Linked DNA regions of Homo sapiens. The protein of the gene in region 1 purifies or fractionates together with the protein of each later gene. This does not show direct contact. Each region holds a gene or a part of one and is shown on either strand. Other genes may lie near its edges. The genes, in order: CSNK1G3, WASF1, NHSL3, CERT1 and ACACB.

Region 1 (4,287 bases):
TCTCCAGTTACTTCTCTGTGTCTCCTCTGATCCATCCTGTAATCCTCTCCATGCTGGGAGTAGACTTATTCTGGTATAGTTTATTGTTTCAGATGTTTTTCAGAATGGAACAAGCGGTTGTTTTGTTCCAAAGGGCTTCCCAAAAGGATGTGTCAAATTAAATAGAAGGAATGCTGAAGTATTGAATAACAAAATATAGGTCATTGAATAGTTATATTATTGTTAATAGTGAGATTTGCTGTGGATGAGATGAAATGTAAAGAATGTATATTTTCACAGAAAGTGGTTTTAATGAAGTAATTATAAAAGAATCTGTACGTGAGGAAAATTGATAGTAACAGAGGGATGATAAGATGAGAAATTTTCACAGTTCGGGATTAACGTGTGTGAGGTTTTTAAGTCATCTTAAATATTAGACGACCCTAAAATAATGTAACCCCACACTTAATCATTATCAAAGGAGTGCTTAGAAAAAAAAATCAGTTTATAAATGCAAGTAAAATCATGTTACAGGGAAAATTGTTTGAAGTTTTTTTTTCTTCTCCTAATTATTCCCCTCTTAGCTTCCCTAATTATTCCCCTCTTAGTATTCAAAAAGGACTTATAACTGAATTTGTGTTCCCTTCAACCTCCCAGTAACAACAATACCTCCTATAATTTATTAAGTGCCTACTTTGTATAGAGGCCATAAATGATACTATTACGACAACTCTGAGTTAGGTGGTGTAACCTCATTTTTGAGAGCAGGAAACAGTCTTCTAGAGTTTAAATAATGTGTTGAAGATATATCTTGGAAGTAGCAGAGTGCATATTTGAGTCAGTTTTTTTTTCTGACTTCAAAGTCTTAAGCCACCAATGATCTGTTTTTTCTTATCTTCCATCTTCATCCTTTTTTTGGTCTTTTCTCAAGCGGTTGGCAATTCGTGGTATTAATTGATAGTATGTGTCTGAGTGTTGGTTCTTTATGATGTAATTTCTTCAGAAGCGGTAGTTTTGAGGTATCTGTCTTTAATTGTGGGATCCTGTAGGTGCAGACAGTATGGTTCTGGTAATTTAAGGCACCTCAGAGCATCACCTTTTGCTGATCTGCAGGACAGAACTATGCTTGGATTCTTAATGTGTAGAAATCAAATGTGCTTTAATAATGTGAAATGATTTTCAAGGGCATCTGAACTGCTCAGGAAATATGGAATGGGAGATAAATGTAGAAATATATAACTTCTAGCGACATGGTGGAGGCTGCTGTTAGACATTTTTTCTTTTTTTTAAGCTCTCTCTGAAAGCTGAGATTTAGCAACTATAAATGTTTGGGCTTCCCTTCTATTATGAAACCTAAGGAAAGTATGTGTTTATTTGTTGTTAGACCATAGTGATTGGTTATACTCTCTCCTGCCACTTCGTGCTTATCATCTTAGTTATAAGAAATAACTCTTAACAATGAATTGAAGTGTTTATGTATTGGGGAGATAAGACACACTTTTTTGGTCGCTTTGTTTACCAATGATATATTACATAGTTGTAATTTATTGAAAATTTATGAGTAAGTTATGTCCACATGGCTAAATCATGTCCGCATTTTTCATAACTTTTCAATGGAATGAGAGATGGTCTCATGATACTCTTTTTCTTAAATACAAAGTTTAATGTTTTTTTTCTCTAGGTTAGTAATGTGAGGTTGAAGTTGTATTCAAATTTATTACATTTATTTAGATCACTTTGTGTTACCTGGAAGTACTTTCTTCAGTTGATAGCTACATTTGGAAAAAAAGGGAAGAGAGTTACCCTGTTATTCTGCCATTATATTCTTCATCAAAATGGAGGAAATTCATATGAAGTGCCAAGGACTATGTGATGCCTGCCACATAGTAGGCACTGTGTAAATCTTCTGTCCTTCATTTCAGAAGTTGCCGATAAGAATTTTAGAGGGTGGATTGGTGGGTAGACAAGCAAAGACTCTCGGGAACACCCTATTACAGGAAAATCTCTCATACCTGACCTCTGCTTAACCCACTCGTGAGATTAAATGATAGTCTTCATTCTCTCTGTAGAATTTGCTGACTGATGCTCATGCTACATTGAATGACAGTAGACTATTCTTTAGTTTTATCTTGAACTTTTATTCCCCCCAGTTACTGTAGACTTACCAAGAAACATTTGTGTTTGTACCCAACACACTGTTATGGCACTTGATGTTGTAATCACATAGTTTAATGAATTATTATTCAGTGAACTCTGAAGATAAAAAGGCGTTTGTATGAGAACCAATTGGCTACTTTGAAATCAAGTGAGTAGCCAAAATCAATTATGGTTGAAATAGATGAGGGTTAAATAATTTTAAATGATTAGGGAAAAAAAAACAAAAAACACCTAACGATCTAAAAAAATCTGCAATAATATTATTTTTCACGTTTGTAAAATGTCTTTCTGTGTTTAAGAAACAGAAACTGGAAATCACAGGTGTTGTTTTATGGGGGTAGTTTTTGCAAGAAAAAGGAAATAGAACTTTCTTCGATAGACCCACACTGGAAGAAAAGGCCATAGCTCTGTATTATAAGATTGTCTTGTGAATGGACATTTTTGTTTTAGTTGTAATAAAATGTATAGAGTTTGTAGATGTTGAGAAATGATTTCCTTTTTAGGCTAACTTCAGAACCATTTATTAATTGTAATATATTAAAGAAGTCTGCTTCTAAAACATCATCTTTCCTAGTTTACACTACTGCTTAGAGATTTATTTAATAACATCCTCTTTAAGAAAAAAAAAAAAAAAAAGGAAGATCCTGTTATTCCCAGAGGTTCATTCCTTAGAGTGAATTGTTTATCTAGTCAGGTGATCAATCTATGGTTCTCACATATTTCCCAGTATGGTCCCTAATCTGATTTCATAAGCTACCTTTCAACTTTTATGTACTGTCAGGGTTGAAGGGGTAAGCCTTCTTATAGTTCCAACATCTCCATCCAATTAGGAATGCTGGGGTAGAGGAGATTGTTCTTTGAAGGAGGAAATGTGACACCCTTGATATATACCAGGAGCACTTGAGCCTCCTATCTCACCTAGCTCAGTCCAAATGGAAAGGAGAACTTTCAGTTGAAGGAGCAGGAAGTCCAGGTTGGAGAAGGAGTGGTATATGTGGTATGCTATTTATTTTGGTGTAACCACATTGCTTGCTGAATTACAGTAGATGCTGAAATGGCACATTGAAGTATGAAGGTAGGGTGGGTGGCTCCAAGCTAGTACTTGAGAGCTCTGGTCTGCCCCTCTGTGATTTTCTTGGCTGTTTGTCTTCTGTGTGTTGGAGTCATCCTAAGGCCAGCAGCAAGATCACATCTAGACATGCACTGGCCAGAGGATGGAATGGATCTCTCTCTCTCTTTCTGTCTGTGTCTCTGGAAAAGCAAATACATCTTTTGCATAAGCCTACCAACATATTTTTCTCTTCGTATCTTATTGACCAGAATTAGGTCACATGAACGTCCTAACTAGTTATCATAAGGGAAGTAAGGTTATCATGGTTGGTTTCTACTAATCAGGAGATACCTTCTGCAATTGGTGTTGGGATCACATTTTTCTGAGTTAGATGGAAGAGGGAGGATATTTTAAAAAAATTGTGGGAAGGAAGAATTTGGGGGATATGGATGTTAGAGAGATGATAAATAGTGATCGCTGTGTCTACCTGTTTTGAAGCGATTCTCGTGCTTCAGCGTCCCAAGTAGCTGGGATTACAGGTGCATGCCACTGCACCCAGCTAATTTTTGTATTTTTAGTATACATGGGCTTTCTCCATGCTGGCCAGGCTGGTCTCGAACTCCTGGCCTCAAGTGATCTGCCTGCCTTGGCCTCCCAAAGTGCTGGGATTATAGGCTTGAGTCACCGTGGCTGGCAAGTTACTTTTTGAGACGGAGTTTTACTCTTGTTTCCCAGGCTGGAGTGCCATGGCATGATCTCGGTTCATTGCAACCCCTGCCTCTTGGGTTCAAGTGATTCTCCTGCCTCAGCATCCTGAGTAGCTGGGATTACAGGCAGTCGCCACCTTTCCTGGCTAATTGTTGTATGTTTAGTAGAGACGGGGTTTTGCCATGTTGGCCAGGCTGGTCTTGAACTCCTGACCTCAGGTGATCTGCCTGCCTCGGTCTCCCAAAGTGCTGGATTACAGGCATGAGCCACTGTGCCCGGCTGGGTCTGAATATTTTAGGAGCTAAAAACACTACTTTATTTTTTCATTGGCTAACTTTGAATCAATAAAATAGGTGGTGAAGTTGAAAGATTATAATTTTTTTCTATGAAAC
Region 2 (4,287 bases), on another chromosome or scaffold:
AGGCCCTTTTTGTTACAAATTTGCAGGTGTTACAATCCAAAATACATAGTTGTGATCATTTATAAGGTATGCTATAGAGTTACTTTATTACTCATGTTTGTAAATATTCATATATTCAGAGACAGTTTTAATATTGTATAAGACTATATTTAATTATACATTTTGCTTTATTTTAGGAATAACTTAAGATATCTTTTCCAAGTGTTGGATTTTCATTATCACAGTACATAGTACCTTGTGATTTCCTTATTGGACTACTATCAAAAGATTATGTTATTAGCACTTTTACCAAAACAGTGCTTTTGGTTACTTTGTGAGAAAACTTCATATAGATAAGACTATTAAAGTGTGTTTAAAGTTACTATTGTATGGTTTCGTTTTTGAGAATTTGTTTTATAATGTTTTCTTAAATGAATTAAAATTTAGCTGACACCGTCACTTGGGTAAATGCAGTAAAGTCGTGGTTTTTCTTAGTTCTTTGAGGAGAGAAACTGACCTGCAGCTTATTGTCATAAATCCAAAGTTGTTAGTATAGTGTTTAACAAATAGCAGGGGCTCAATTTTCTTTGTTGAACAAATAAAATGAATGGGTAAAGAATATCCATTGAATTAATATATTTAGTGAAACATTTTTAAAGATTTATCAAACATTATAATTAATGAAATGTATAACTTTATCTCAGGAGAAAAGAGAAAAATGAATTTCAAGGTTCTTTGAACTCCATTTACCTGCTCAGATATAATTCCATTACCTGTACACTTTTGAACTGGCACTAGATACTTAATAATGTATATGTTAGTAGTCTTTGATTTATGAAATATTAACAATTTTCTTCTTATAGCTCACTTTATGAAGATGTATGTTAACATATTTTTTGTTTTTCCTACACTAGATAGAAGTGTGTTTGATTCTTTGTGACTTACGTTTTCTAGTGAAATAGTAATAAAAAAGATATATGTAAATTAAATCCTATGCTGAATGCTTGAGTACCTAGTTGTTAAAAATAAATGACCCCTGAAGTGGAACTTTTTATAAAATTAAGAATCTTGTGTTTTAAGTTTATCACATTCAGCTTATAATTTTGAGTCTTTGTGAATTGGTAGTTCTAACTTACTACACAATTGATTACATTTTACAACTTGTAAAATGGTTTGGAACTTGAGTCTTATTTTCTCAGAAACAGTATACTTAGTGGTTAGAGTCACAGACAGCCCACTAAAGCCTATTTAAATAATAAAATACCTGAATTATAGGATTATGTTAATACTAAAGAAATTATAAAATTATGTTAATAATTAGCATAAGTATATTAAAATACCTATAATAATTTGTATGACAGTCTTTCTATGGGAAAAATAAGTTTCAGATGTACCCTGAAATGCTAGGATCTGTAACTCTTGTGTTAGACATGACAACATTATTAGGAACTTGTTCTCTTTCACCCAGTGGACTTGAAGAGGAGGCTGTTTCTCAGTTCAGTGAGTGGCATAGGCTTACATTATCTGGGACAAGAAGTTAGGGCATGACAAAAATTAGAAGGAAATGCAGTCTTCTGCGTGACTTTACTTCTCAAGATGTTTGATTATAAAATGAAAAGGTAGAAGTAGATGACTTCGGAGATCTGTTTTAGCTACAAATAAAATTCTAAGATACTTCGAAGCTTGGTGTAACCCCCTTTTTTTCCTGAGAGTTCATTTTCCCTAAAGTTACCGCTTACGTCCCTCTTATGAGGACATTTCTTCTTTCTGGACCTACCTCTGAAAAAGAAAGTAGTCTTGATCCTTTCACACGTGCCTGTTCTCAGAAGCAAGATTTTTTAGTCTCTTAAAGGCGTTATTTTTGTGATGGGTTTTTTGTTTGTTTTAATTTTTAAAAATAAACTCCCAGCACTGTCAAGAAACAGGATTTTTCTTTTGGATTGTTTCCTTTGTTTCCTTATTTTGAGCTATTGGTAAAGTCAGGGTAGATTTTATTCATACTTTGAAGAAAGATCATATCCAGTCAGTCTCCATAGAATTTTTTTAAGGAAAAAATTTTGGAATGAGGTCATGAAGTGGGAGTATGAAGATATAAAGATGGATTATTGCCCCATAAAATACGGGGCATCTTGTATTTGTAGCAGCCTTACCTGGGGTGCTATGGAGCTTTGGTATGGATGTGATGGAGCTGAAGGCAGATTGAGAAAGTGAATCTGTGAACTCCTTGAGGACAGTTTTGTTGTAAGCGTTTGGTTGTTTTGTTTTGCTTTGCTTCATTTTTGTGTTCCCAGTGCCTGTTTTTGGTTTAAGCTAAATGGATTTTGAGTGTATGCAATTACTACAGAATAAAAGAGAAGTCATTCTGTTCCATGTGGAAAGATCAGGGTGCTGTGAGGGAAGAGGTCATGAAACAGCTATTTTTGTCATATGCATTGGAGTATTTAATAATTATTTGGAGATCAGTGATATTCAAAAATAATGTGTAACATGGTCCAAAAGGAAAAGAAGTGACATTGCTTGCTTGCTAGATGTACAAGATTCTGTATAGATGCTGTCACATTTATTATTTATCTTGTTTAATTGCTATCATAGCCCTATAAGGATTTAATTGAAGAAAAAGGTTAACTGAATTGAACAAGTTGTTTGTTCTGCCTAGCGGAAGCCCAGATTGTTTCAGAACTGCTTTATCTCCCCTTTTACTGATAAGTTTCTGTTGGAGCAGTCATTTTAATAACTTGATAATAACAATTCTGCCTGCCTGCTACTGTCCCCTCATTTGTAATTGGTTCATTTAGTGGGTCCCCCTTGTTAAACCAGTGATTCATAGTTCATAATCAGCACATAATTATTGAGGGCCAAGTAGGTGCTAAAAAGGACAGGTCTCTATTCTCTTGGAGTTAACAGTATAGTAAAAAACAGGTGTTGAACAAATACATTTGTACTTAGAAATTTTGGTGAATGCTGTAAAGGAAAAGAAGAGGGAACTGGATTTACACTGGGAGTCAGGGGAGGCTTCTTAGAGGCAAGATTAGTGGAAGTTAGCTAGGTGGAAAAGGAAGAGAATTCAAAGAACAGGTGAAACAGTTAAAGCTTAGTGTAAGAGGGATTGTGACTTGATATGAGGTTGCAGAGGTAAACAGAAGCCAGACTATGCAGAGGGCCTACGTGAGGTTTGGTTTAACGAGGTTAAGGATTTTAAGTCTATTGGGGAAGGCCATGAAGAGTTTTAATCGGGTTAATTACTGGATCAGATCTGTCTTTTGTAAAGATCACTTTGGCTTGGAAGGGGCCAGAGATACCAATCACAATTCTGTTCATTTCTGTGGTTTATTGGCCTGGTTTTAGACACTTTTTTACTAAGCCAAGTCACTCAGAACTTTTCCTGGGTCCTCCATGCCCAGAGGTTGAATAATTTGTTTTCTCTTCAGTTGCTGAAGCTGTGAGATACAAAACTCTGGAACTGTTAATGGCCTTGTTTCTTGCCCTGTGGGCTAGATAAGCCAGGGCTTCTAGAACAAAGAGTGCAAAGAAGCAGATGCACAGAGTCCTGACTGTATTTGAGTTCCTTTGTCCATGGTCCTGAGATTGGGTTCCAGAGACATCCTAGTTACCTTTGTCATAAGTCCTCCTTTTTGCGTAAACTGTTAGAATTGTATTTGTGGTACTTGTCAACCAGCAAACTGAGTCCTCTCATAGATCAAGTAATTTGCTCAAGGTCACATGGCTAATAGAAATGGAGGTGGAATTTGAGCACAGATATGTGTGATTTCAAAGTCCCATTTTTTTCCTACTCCCTTATGCTGCAAAGGTACCATTTCTTAAACTAAAGGTCCTAAAGAAATTCTAAGTAGGTGGGTTTTGGGTGTGATGACATCTGTTGGATGATGATGACAGCAAAGTTTTTTTGTTTTTTTGTTTTTTTAATTTGGTGTGCTTGATAGTAGTTAGTCCAGCATGTAGCCATTCTTTATTCCTAACCTAGCCAGGTCTACTCCAATAAAGTTACATTGACTAACTTATTTGAAAAGAAGAAAAGCTTATGTGTCAGGGCATGGAATAACTTGTTTGATTCCTTTACCAAAAAAGTCAAGTGTGTTATGTTTTCACCTTATGCTACAAAAGTAAGTTTGTTTTCTAGTTGTTTTAATAGGGACATCTTGCTAAATTTGTTAAATTTGCTAAATTTTTATAACATGCATGTGCTACAGGTTATGCCAGAGAATTGTGAAAGGGTTAAACGAAAAGGGAGGAACAGTGAAGCATTTTATATTTTAGTCGAGGATGAAGACTAGCACTCACTTCTTAAAA
Region 3 (4,287 bases), on another chromosome or scaffold:
GACTCCAGGCACATTCTGCAGGGCACTACTTTTGTAATAAGAGCTCTGCGAGAAATGGTTTCCACAGTCAAGTAGGTATGGGCAAGGCTAGGTTAAACAAAGCTAGAGGCTTCTTTCTGTAAGACTAAGGCTACTAAGTCAATGATGGTAATTTCCCTTTAGTGATAGCTTACTATTTAGTAAACATATTATTACGTGTTAGTCGTCATTCTAAACATTTGGCATTCATTCCAATAGGGTACTTATCCTCATTTTTATAGAACATCAAACAGAAGTTCAGAGAGGTTAAGGGTTTTCCCAAGGTCACACAGCTGGCACTAGTTAGTTACACCAGGCTTCCAACAGTTAAGATTTTCTAACTCTTTTTTTATTTTTTTTTTGAGATGGAGTCTCACACTGTCGACCAGGCTGGAGTGCAGTGGTGCAATCTCGGCTCACTGCAAGCTCCACCTCCTGGGTTCACGCCATTCTCCTGCCTCAGCCTCCCAAGTAGCTGGGACTACAGGCACCCGCCATCAGGCAAGGCTAATTTTTTGTATTTTTAGTAGAGACGGGGTTTCATTCACCGTGTTAGCCAGGATGGTCTCGATCTCCTGACCTCGTGACCCGCCCACCTCGACCTCCCAAAGTGCTGGGATTACAGGCGTGAGCCACCGCACCCGGCCGCCAAGATTTTCTAACTCTTAACTGCTTTATAGTTAGTGTGTATCACGAATGTGCAAGAGGACACAGGGTACTGTGTTTCCCGAATTCATTGAATCAGAGAGCCTGGTGAAACACTGGATAAGGAGGAAAAGAAGCTACAGATGCTGGGACCCAATGGAGCCCACTGTCCCTCTCCCCTGCCCATGAATCCACCTTTGCGCTGGATCATCTCCGAGCGGATGGAGAGCGCGTCCTCTGCTGTGGAGCTCTCAGCCACGTAGGATGTGGTCTGACTGCAGAAGGAGATGTTGTCTTCATCCGGCCCCGTCCGGGAGGACTATCAGGGTAGAAGGAGATCTGGGTGGGGCTGTCTCCTCAAGGCTCCCCATTGGAACTTTTTTTTGAGACAAATCCAGCTCAGGCTGGAGTGCAGTAGCGAAATCTTGGCTCACCACAACCTCCGCCTCCCAAGTTCAAGCGATTATCCTGCCTCAGCCTCTCAAGCAGCTGGGATTATAGGTACCCTCCCACCATGCCTGGCTAATTTTTGTATTTCTAGTAGAGACAGGGTTTCACCACTTTGGCCAGGCTGGTCTCAAAATCCTGACCTCAAGTGATCCGCCCACCTCAGCGTCCCAAAGTGCTGGGGTTACAGGTGTAAGCCACCTCGCCCAGCCTCCCACTCGAACTTTTGAGTCACAGATCCCCTCCAGCATCACCTAGCACTGAGCAACCCTGAACTAGCCCTCAGGGTTCATTTAGTGTAGCCCTTTGTGATAAAGAAACTGAGACCCAGAAATGTTCCAAGACATCCTTGCCAGGGGTCAAGCAGGTAGAGAAGAGTCAGGACTGAGCTGGAGGCAGGGCTCACCTGGATACTCTGGGTGTCTCCATGGTCCCAGCCACCCTTGTTCAGTTTCTGTTTCTCTGGAAGACACCAGAAGGGTCTGTTGGGTTAGGCCCCTGACCTTGACAGCTGACAGTGCAGCACTGGAGGGAGGAGAGGGGAGGGGAGTGGAGAGGAAGCTTACCTTGGTGTTGTAGGGAGCGGAGCCCCTCCTGGGCCTGAGTGTGCAGCTCTTCCAGGTGGGGGGGTCGCCCACTGGGAAAGAAGACGTTGTCCTGGTGCTCATCCACTGCAGACCCTGGCCCCTGGCCAGGCCCTACACTTAGATGTTTGTCATTCTCAGCCTTGGCAGAGCCTAGTAGGAGGGAGGAGGAAGGGAAATGAGGTAAAGGCATCTGGGCCCTGCAGGGGCACAGGTCTCACGGCAAGGGCAGTCATGGTCCCCAGACTGCACACGGCCATTGCATATACAAGCAATGCCCCCTTCCCCAGTCTGGACACATAACCCACAGTTCTGGAGTAAACACTCAACACACACAGCCCCCATATACACAAACTACACCCAAGTGTACATAAATCTGAGTACCCACACCACACAAAGGGCCCCATATAAGGCCCCACACACAGGGCACACAGGTACACAGGTCTACTGTGTACGTACACAGCACTCACAGATGTCATTCATGTATATAAACAAAGGGCATCCGAGTATAAACACACATAGGTACACACACCAAGCACACCCAGCCCGCACGTAAACACACAACACCCACAGTCCCTGCTCTGTATATACACAAACAGTAACCAAGTATACACACGACTATGTACTCACACGTCACTCAGAGCCCCACAAAAAACATCCCGAGTATACACATAGCCCATAGTAAATACATTGCTCTCGCCTCCATACCCAAAACCCCACTTCACAGGAAAACAAACCACTCTTTTCATGCCACCACTTGAACCAGGTCCAGGAAGAAGATATCACGGGAAATCAGGAAGGAGAGACAGCTGGCATGAGTTACAACCATATTCCCAGAAAATCCTAGGGGGGATGCAGACCAAGGAGATAGCCTCCTGGGTCCCCTACTCACCCATGTGGCTGCCCCTTAGTGGAAGGATGGGCAGGGGAGGGGAGAAGAAAGACCCAGGCCCCTCCACCCGCCCAAGGGAGCTCCAGTCTCTCTTGGGGAAATAGTCCCAGGTATCCCCCTCTCCTGGAGGCCCTGGCCCTGGCCCTGGCCCCTGTTGCAGAGGAGCCAGGGATCCATTACAAAGGATCCTGTTACAAGCCCCGCCTGTGGAGGGGCTGGCCATCTAATCCTGGGGATGGGGGGCTGTGTCAGCACTTTGCAGCCCCAGCCCCCCCTTTAAATGAAACCCACAACATAAGCAAAAGCGCTGGAAGGGTCATGTGACCTTGGTAACACCTTATAAAGGGACGGGAACAAAACAAGCCCTTTAAAGGGCCATGCTCCAGGAGCAGGGTCTTCAGTTCAGAAACCTGCCTTTCCTCCTCCCTCAGCCCATTCGTCAACAGCCAGAGCTCCTGCCCTAGGGAGTCTGCAGGAATCCCACAGGTCAGAGCTAGGAGGCCCCCAACAGATCCAACCAGACCAGTGCCCGAGATCCCCAGATTTTACAAGTGGGGAAACGGTTCAAAGGGGCAAGGCCTTGCCTAAGGTCACCCAGCAGTAGGAGTCAGACTGACCCTGGACTCAACTCCAGGTTCCCAGAGGGGACTCCCGGATCACACTCAGAGTAGGGGCCCCCAACCCTCAAAAGTCCAATAAACTCTTGTCCCTATGTCTTAATCCAGGTCTGAAAGCCCAATTCCTAGGAGAAGGAAGGAGGAACAGGCCCCTCCCTCCAAAACTTCTCCATTCCCAGGCCTCTAAACAGGATTTCACTGAGCAGGCTTCCCAACTTCCAGTGGTACTACTCTCCTCTCTTCTGGGCCGCCCACGTCCCATCCTCCCCGGCACACTAGGAAAGGCTAGTACATCTTGACTGGGAGGCTGTACCCAGTAAAGTGTGGGTACCCCGGCAGGGAGGCAAGTCTCACGGGAGGGCTGCAGGCTTCAAGGTCAGAGACACCTGGATCCATCCTCCCAACCCACAAGCAGGGCCCAGACAAAGGCAGCAACAAAGCGGCTGGACAAAAGCACAGCCGGATGGGAGATTCTGGCCTCATTATCAGCCCCCAGCCCCACCCCATTACTTTTGCCCAGCCTTGATTCCTCATTCTACATAAGGGTCTGGGAAAGGGAGGCATCGAGCATCCCTCCCCTCCCCCCAAGCCACACCCACTCACCCTTCTTCTTAAACAGCCCTAGGAGCGCCGGGAGGCGGCGGCCAACGAACACCACCATGACTGCGGGCGCCACTCGAGACGTTCCCTATCCCACCCTGCCTCTCCAGAGCAGAGCGCGGGGCGTACCTTCACTGTAACCCAGCACTATGGGGATGCGAGCCCTCCCGCCCCGCCGCAGAGCACCGGCTCCAGACAGAGGAGGGGGAGGGGCTGCTCTCCATGTCCTCCTCCCACCTTCGCCACTGATCCCGCCCATCTGCCGACCCCACCCCTTAAATGGGGTGCAGGGGCACAGAAAGGCAACTGAGGCCAGGAGTCCGTGGGTGCTCTGCTCCAGTAGAGTATGATTAGGAGGACCGAAGATACTCAATCCAGCAGCAGATCACTCACCCTGCCTGCAAGTCCAGAGTTAAGGCAGGGGTCCCAGCTGCCAGATGGTAGGTGGAGGGGCTACCAGACTAGACTTGGCAGGGTGCCCACC
Region 4 (3,464 bases), about 48 Mb from region 1:
CTATACCACTCACACTATATCTGAAATTTATCATCACCCCAAACAGAAACTCCGTACTCATTAAGCAACAACTCCCCATTCCCTCTCCTCCCATTCCATAATAATGTTCTGCTTAGACTCAAAGTCTATAGTGTTATTTACACTACAATATTTTTCCCTTTAAATTTGACATCTTTTGCAGTATGGTCTTAAAAGAGGGCTACTGGTCTCTTGATATTTAAGTCATTCTCATTCTTTAAATTTCTATCTTATCATCCTGTGGATTTGTATTCATTAGGTCTAAATTTGCCAAATCTTCATGTATTACTTACTGTCTCCACACAATTTACCCAACACTATATTTATCAACTACATGAAATTTTGTATCTTTAAAAAATGAATCATTTCATCTTGCAAATGATTTGTATTGTATGCTATTTATTACTCTCAGTAATCAGGAATGACGCTGCATAACAAGGACTAGTCCAGATACATATACGAGATAACCAAAATAAAAGTAACTTAAATAGGATAAAAGGTTTTTTTTCTCATTTAAAGTAGGTAGTCCCATTTATTGAAGACCTAGGCTCCATGTCATTCCCATAGTATATGTTTCCCCTTGCATACCTTAATATTGAAATATTTAATCTAAGTGACTTAGAATTCTTTCTAATGTGATTTGATTCAAATAAGTCTTTTTTCATTAAATCTTTGAATCTAAGTAGAACATAATCATGGAGTATGAGGAGAGAGGAATGGAAAGTTGTTGCTTACTGGGTACAGAGTTTCTGTTTGGGATGATGATAAATTTCAGAGATAGCAATATGGTTACATAACACTGTGAATGTAATTAATGTCCCTGAATTGTACCCTAAAAGTTAGTTAAAATGACAAATTATACGTGTATATATTTTACTGCAATTAAAAAAATAGAACATTATTCCTTTTATTATATTGTTCTGCAAAGCTATTAACTCTGTTCATAATTAATCATTTGGTAGATATCCTCAGATGCTTTCCATTTAAAATTTGAGAGATTTTACCTTCAATTAAGACATTTATTGGCATTACGTTTCTCTTGTTAGTTCCATGTTAGATCTGTTTTTCAAAAGATTTTTACTTCTCCACAGAGGGTGTGGCCTGCTTCTCAGCGAGACGTATTATATCTTTCTGTCATTCGAAAGATACCAGCCTTGACTGAAAATGACCCTGAAACTTGGATAGTTTGTAATTTTTCTGTGGATCATGACAGTGCTCCTGTAAGTACATGTATATAAATGTGTATAATTAAACAATATAAAGCTAAATACACAATGCGGGACAAAAATGATAAACACAGCCCATACACTATACTTGATTTGATAATGGTTCTTAGATTTTATGTTGGATTGACTGCTAGGAACAGTATAGCCCATGTGTTGTCTGAGGGCAACAGTCATGCCTATGAACATTCCACCAGGGCCGTTTACCTTTCCTTCTAATGTTTCGTGAAACAGCCAAAAGGGCAGTACATACACTGGGCAGTAGGCTACTTCCCACAGTTATCTCTTAAGCCGTTATCAACTGCCAGCCAAACCTCTGTGGTTTACCACAATTTAGCTCCATTTACTACTTAAGAGGAAGGGATCCTGGGCAACATGGTTAGACCCCATCTCTATTAAAAAAAATTTTTTTTTTTTTTTTAATTAGCCAGGCCTGGTGATGTGCACCTGTGGTCCCAGCTACTCTGGAGGTTGAGGCGGGAGGATTGCTTTGAGCCCAGGAGTTTGAAGCTGCAGTGAACTATGATGGCACCACTGCACTCCAGAGTGGGCAACAGAGCAAGACCTTGTCCCCAGAAAAAGTGGGTGGGGAGGAATCCTGGTGTCATATCAGCTTGGTGCTTATAAGATTTCACTGGAGATACTTTTAAGAGTTACGATTTTGGTTAACCTAATATAATATTAGACCAGCAGAGTTTACAAAATACTGGGTATCTACTGATGCTTTGTTTTTTGTTTTGGCAGCTAAACAACCGATGTGTCCGTGCCAAAATAAATGTTGCTATGATTTGTCAAACCTTGGTAAGCCCACCAGAGGGAAACCAGGAAATTAGCAGGGACAACATTCTATGCAAGATTACATATGTAGCTAATGGTATGTATTTTATTGTTTTTGCTCTTTGATAATGTGGCTGTTCTTGATCATGACCTATATGACAACAATTTGGACAAATGCCTTTTTAGTTCTTATCCATTAGATTACTAATTTTTAATTTGGAGAAAGGTATATCAGAATTACTAGAGAATCTTTGAAAGTACAGATGTCTGAATTTCACCCTGGAACTACTACTATATGAGTATTTCTGAAGCTAGAGCTGGATAGGAAAATTTTAAAACTTTATCCCTAGGTCACTGTATATACCCTTCTTTTTTTTTTTTTTTTTTTTTTGAGATGGAGTCTCGTTCTGTTGCCCAGGCTGGAGTGCAGTGGTGCAGTCTCAGCTCACTGCAGCCTCCGCCTCCTGGGTTCAAGCGATTCTCTGCCTCTGTAGCTGGGATTACAGGTGCCCACAACCACGCCTGGCTAGTTTTTTGTATTTTTAGTAGAGACGGGGTTTCACCATCTTGGCCAGGCTGGTCTTGAACTCCTGACCTCGTGATCCACCCACCTCGGCCTCCCAAAGTGCTGGGATTACAGGCGTGAGCCACTGCGCTCGACCTAGCCTTCATATTAAGCACCATTTTCTTAGATATTTGCCTCATAGAACAGATTTATTATTAGGAATATAAGCAACAGTGGGGAAGGAAATTAAGAGTTCTTTTACTCATTGTCAGCCTTTTTAGCTTTCTGAATCAATGTTCCCCTAGTCCTTATTAGTTGCTAGTTACATATTTATTTCTCTTTGACATTCATTGTCAGGCTTTTTGTTTTCTGAGTCAGCGTTTCCCTAGTCCTTATTAGTTGCTAGTTACATATATTTGTTTCACTTTGGATAGGTCTTTTCATTGCTTGCTTTGGGTCCTTACTTCACCTGCTTTGCACCTGGAGTAATCATTGCAACCTCTCTCATCAAAAGTCATACCTTCTTTATACAGGGCCATAACTGCTAGTATGTTCAAAGAAACAGTTGTACCTGAGTAAGTTACTATTTCATTATAGTACAGATTTGTGAATAATCTGCCCTAAATAACCTTAAGTGGTGCTATACTAATTTTTGCAGGTAATTTCGGGAACTAAGAACATTGTAGAAAGGTTATAGATGCTTTCTTATTTGCTGTCTGATTATGTCTGATGGATAGTGTTAAGGAATGAAGGGTTGGGACTTAAAAGATCATAATTGGTCCAGCTGGGTACAGTGACTCAGCCTGTAATCCCAGCACCTTGGGAGGCTGAGGCGGGCGGATCATGAGGTCAAGAGTTCGAGACCATCCTAGCCAACATGGTGAAAACCCATCTCTACTAAAAATACAAAATTAGCTGGGCATGGTGGCGTGCACCTGTAA
Region 5 (4,287 bases), on another chromosome or scaffold:
GAGGGAGGGTAACAACGCACACCGGGGCCTGTCGGGGGGTGGGGGCCGAGGGGAGGGAACTTAGAGGACAGGTCGGTAGGTGCAGCAAACCACCATGGCACATATATACCTGTGTAACAAGCCTGCACGTTCTGCACATGTATCCTGTTTTTTTTTTTAGAAGAAATAAGAAAAAAAGTGTACAATTTAATATATTTTTAGTATATTCACCAGGTTGTACAACCATCACCAGAATCAATTTTAGGACATTCTCATCACTCCATAGAAAAACCCTGTACCTGTTAGCAGTCACTCCCCTCTGTCCCCAACCCAAAAACCCTCTCCCCACCACAGCCCTAGGCAACCACTAATCTACTTTCTCTCTATATAGATTTGCCTATTCTGGACGTTTCATATAAATGGAATCAGATCACAGGAGGTCTCTTATGATTGACATCTTCCACTTAGCATAATGTTTACAGGTTCATCCGTGTGGTAACATGCAGCAATACTTCAGTTCCTTTTACGGCCAAATAATATTCCATTGTGTCTTTGGTTTTTAATGCAGAAAAATATCCTTGTGGATTATGGACTCCGACGAATCACATTCTTGATTGCCCAAGAGGTTAGTTCACAGTTCATCTCTATGAGTCTTTCCCATTCTCCAAGCCTTGGTGTGTGCCATTTATTTGATATTTATTTTGTAGATTTGGGTGAAAGAGATCATTAGAAAGGAGAAGGATTTCCAAATGATTCATTCTAGAAGTGAATGTAATCGTTTACAATCACTAAATAAGGATGTACATATTTCAGTGCGTCTTGCTTGATTTAATTGTCTTGTGTGTGGATTTCTTTTTGCAGAAAGAATTTCCCAAGTTTTTCACATTCAGAGCAAGAGATGAGGTATGGCCAAAAGTAATGATGTTTTCTCTTCTCTAGCATCTTGTTTTATTTTTTAAGAGATGGGATGGGGCCGGGTGTGGTGGCTCAAGCCCGTAATCCTAGCACTTTGGGAGGCTGAGGCAGGAGGTTTGCTTGAGCTCAGGAGTTCTAGACCAGCCTGGGTTATATAGTGAGACCCTGTCTCTACAAAAAAATTAAAAAATCAGCCTGGCATTGTGATGCAAGCCTGTGGTCCCAGCTACTTGGGAGGCTGAGGTGGGAGGATTGCTTGAACCTGGGAAATAGAGGTTTCAGTGAGCCAAGGTGATTCCACTGCACTCTAGCCTGGGTGACAGAGTGAGACTCTGTCTCAAAAAAAAGGAAAAAAAAGAGATGGGGTCTCACTATGTTGCCCAGGCTGGACTCGAACTTATGGCTCAAGCGATTCTCTTGCTTCAGCCTCCCGAATAGCTGGGACTATAGGCACATGCCACCGTGCCTCCCAGCTCCCTGGCATCTTTGATATTCATGAAGAATATAGTCTGCAGTCCTTAAGGCATCCCCATATTCAAGAATGTAGCAACTTTTGTGTAGACTGCAGTCTTCCTCTGGGATTGTATTTCCATTGAGAGCCCTCTGTTCCCTGCATGGCACTCAGACCTGAGAATCTTGCCCTTTCAGCCTCACTACAGGTTTCTGTCTTGCTTGAATAATTTTCAGTACTTGCTGATGTACTCAGTAAGACATTTTTTCCAAACTGTTTTTCTTATGCTCGTCTAGAACAGTGGTTGGCAAACTCACTTGCAGACCAGCTGCCTGTTTTTACGAATAAAGTTTTATTGGAACACAGCCACACCCGTTGGATTCCACATTGTCTACTCTGGCTTTCACTCTAACAGTAGCAGAATTGAGTAGTTGTGACAGAGCCCGTATGATCCATCAGCCTAAAACATTTACTCTCTGGCCATTTAAGAAAACGTTTACCGATCCCTGTTGTAGAACAGGTAGGTTTATTCCCAGCACTGATTCAAGACCCCACCAAATTCAGCATTTTGCATTTTAATTTATCCAAAGCTTTATTTTTCTAGCTAAGACACATCCTTTTCTTAATGTCTTCATTTTTTTTTTCAGTTTAGTTTCCAGTACTGTCAGTTGCTTTCTTTTCGGGGACCAATTTCCACCAAGAAACCAGGGGTTAGTGGCTTCATGAGAATTGCCACAGGCTGTGACAGATGGAGAACAGCCTGGTCACGCTGGCAGGTGATAGGGACTAGCTAGGTTCCCCCAGGAGCCAGCGCTGCACCCAGCACAACAGGCTTGCAATGCCCATAGCTCTCCTCAGATCTTAGCAAAACCCCAAATATCTGGAGCCCTGGGGGTAGCTTACAATTAGGGAACATCATGAATGCTGCATTCCTGAGTGCCAAACCCATGGACACCAGGGGTCTGCAGAGTAGGGTGTGGACCAAGCAGGGACGCAGCTCCAACGTCACGCTGTGTGTGTATGTGTCTGTCTTCTCTCTCTGGTCCGCCTACAGTTTGCAGAAGATCGCATTTACCGTCACTTGGAACCTGCCCTGGCCTTCCAGCTGGAACTTAACCGGATGCGTAACTTCGATCTGACCGCCGTGCCCTGTGCCAACCACAAGATGCACCTTTACCTGGGTGCTGCCAAGGTGAAGGAAGGTGTGGAAGTGACGGACCATAGGTTCTTCATCCGCGCCATCATCAGGCACTCTGACCTGATCACAAAGGTAAGATGTCGCAGAGCATTTCTTCCTCTCTCAGAACCTGGCCCTCCCTTCCTTACATTCCTGCTCTGTGCTGGGTCCTGGGCTGCATGCTGGGGATGGAGAGTACACCAACACCCAGGGTCCTGCCCTTGCTATGCTCCAGTCCAGGGCAGGAGGCGGACAGCAAAGTGGCCTGTGATCACGTCCAGGCTGGTGGCACTTGGATCTGTTTCTTGTATTATGTGGGTCTCTGCGCATGAGAAGAAAATTTCCAGGATAGAAAAATACTGGTTTGTTCAGGGAATTTCTTAATATTTGCTGACTGAGTGATCGTTTTCCATTGTTTCTTGCATTTAGAAAAGTAATCCATGGCCGGGTGCAGTGACCCATGCCTGTAATCCCAGTACTTTGGGAGGCTGAGGTGGGCGGATCACTTGAGGTCAGGGGTTCAAAACCAGCCTGGCCAACATGGTGAAACCCTGTGTCTACTAAAAATACAAAAATTACCTGGGCGTGGTGGCGTACACCTGTAATTCCAGCTACTCAGGAGGCCGAGGCATGAGAATCGCTTGAACCTGAGAGGCGGAGGTTGCAGTGAGCTGAGATGGAGCCCTTGTACTTCAGCCTGGGGGATAGAGTGAGACCCTATCACAAAAAAAAAAAAAAAAGAAAAAAAGAAACAGAAGTAATCCATGATTATATTGTGAAAATTTTAAATAAGACTGAAAACGATTTTTAAGAACCTAGCGCAAGGACCGAGAATCCTGTCACTGAGGGGCCAGCTTAGTTGTTGACTGTTTCTAGACACAATTCCGTCCCTGAAACCTAGAGTTGTAGGCATAAGTTGCAGATAAGAGCTGAGAGTGGACAGATCATTTGAATATATTATTCTTTAATTGGTCAGTCACTTGTGGACCTCTTTCATTGTTAATAAAGAGTGGTCCACCACATATTATTTCCTTGCATGGATGTACCGTGTATAATTTTTTTTTTTTTTTTACTAATCCCCTATTGATGGAAACATATATATATTATTATATATATAATTATATATAATAATATATATAATATATTATATAATATAACATATAATATACATAATATAATATATAATATGTTATATAACATTATATATACATAATATAATACATATTATATGTATTTATATAAATATATATTTATATAAATGTATATATAATTATTATATATATATATTTTTTTGGAGATGGAGTTTTGCTCTTGTTGCCCAGGCTGGAGTGCAATGGCACAATCTCAGTTCACTGCAACCTCCGCACCCCCGGGTTCAAACAATTCTCCTGCCTCAGCCTTCTGAGTAGCTAGGACTACAGGCACACCCCACCATGCCCAGCTAATTTTGTATTTTTAGTAGAGATGGGGTTTCTCCATGTTGGTCAGGCTGGTCTGAAACTGCCGACCTCAGGTGATCTGCCCACTTCGGCCTCCCAAAGTGCTGGGATTACAGGCGTGAGCCACCACGCCTGGCCCTATTGATGGATATTAAGCTAACTGCAGTTTTTTTGCTACCTGTCAGCTAGATGTTTTATTTTTATTTTGATACAGAGATTTGCTCTTGTCACCCAGGCTGGAGTGCAGTGGCGTGATCTTGGCTCACTACCACCTCTGCCTCCCGGGTTCAAGCGATTCTCCTGCGTCAGCTTCCTAAGTAGCTGGG

The links.
Region 2: the proteins of CSNK1G3 (region 1) and WASF1 purify together in Homo sapiens (affinity purification with mass spectrometry, with the first as the bait; one large-scale study listed by BioGRID). This does not show direct contact.
Region 3: the proteins of CSNK1G3 (region 1) and NHSL3 purify together in Homo sapiens (affinity purification with mass spectrometry; one large-scale study listed by BioGRID and IntAct). This does not show direct contact.
Region 4: the proteins of CSNK1G3 (region 1) and CERT1 purify together in Homo sapiens (affinity purification with mass spectrometry; one large-scale study listed by BioGRID and IntAct). This does not show direct contact.
Region 5: the proteins of CSNK1G3 (region 1) and ACACB purify together in Homo sapiens (affinity purification with mass spectrometry; one large-scale study listed by BioGRID and IntAct). This does not show direct contact.

What each region holds. Positions count from the first base shown.
Region 1 is NC_000005.10:123,515,177-123,519,463, forward strand, and holds part of CSNK1G3 (casein kinase I isoform gamma-3), read left to right. Parts: intron 1-4,287. UniProt on the Homo sapiens protein: Serine/threonine-protein kinase. Casein kinases are operationally defined by their preferential utilization of acidic proteins such as caseins as substrates. It can phosphorylate a large number of proteins. Participates in Wnt signaling.
Region 2 is NC_000006.12:110,172,926-110,177,212, reverse strand, and holds part of WASF1 (actin-binding protein WASF1), read left to right. Parts: intron 1-4,287.
Region 3 is NC_000001.11:32,765,347-32,769,633, reverse strand, and holds part of NHSL3 (NHS-like protein 3), read right to left. Parts: intron 4,008-4,287; exon of another isoform or gene 3,865-4,007; coding exon of another isoform or gene 3,807-3,864; intron 1,848-3,806; coding exon 1,677-1,847; intron 1,573-1,676; coding exon 1,517-1,572; intron 983-1,516; coding exon 859-982; intron 1-858. UniProt on the Homo sapiens protein: Able to directly activate the TNF-NFkappaB signaling pathway.
Region 4 is NC_000005.10:75,379,723-75,383,186, reverse strand, and holds part of CERT1 (ceramide transfer protein), read left to right. Parts: intron 1-1,109; coding exon 1,110-1,238; intron 1,239-1,985; coding exon 1,986-2,115; intron 2,116-3,464. UniProt on the Homo sapiens protein: Shelters ceramides and diacylglycerol lipids inside its START domain and mediates the intracellular trafficking of ceramides and diacylglycerol lipids in a non-vesicular manner.
Region 5 is NC_000012.12:109,234,766-109,239,052, forward strand, and holds part of ACACB (acetyl-CoA carboxylase 2), read left to right. Parts: intron 1-547; coding exon 548-604; intron 605-840; coding exon 841-882; intron 883-2,399; coding exon 2,400-2,615; intron 2,616-4,287. UniProt on the Homo sapiens protein: Mitochondrial enzyme that catalyzes the carboxylation of acetyl-CoA to malonyl-CoA and plays a central role in fatty acid metabolism.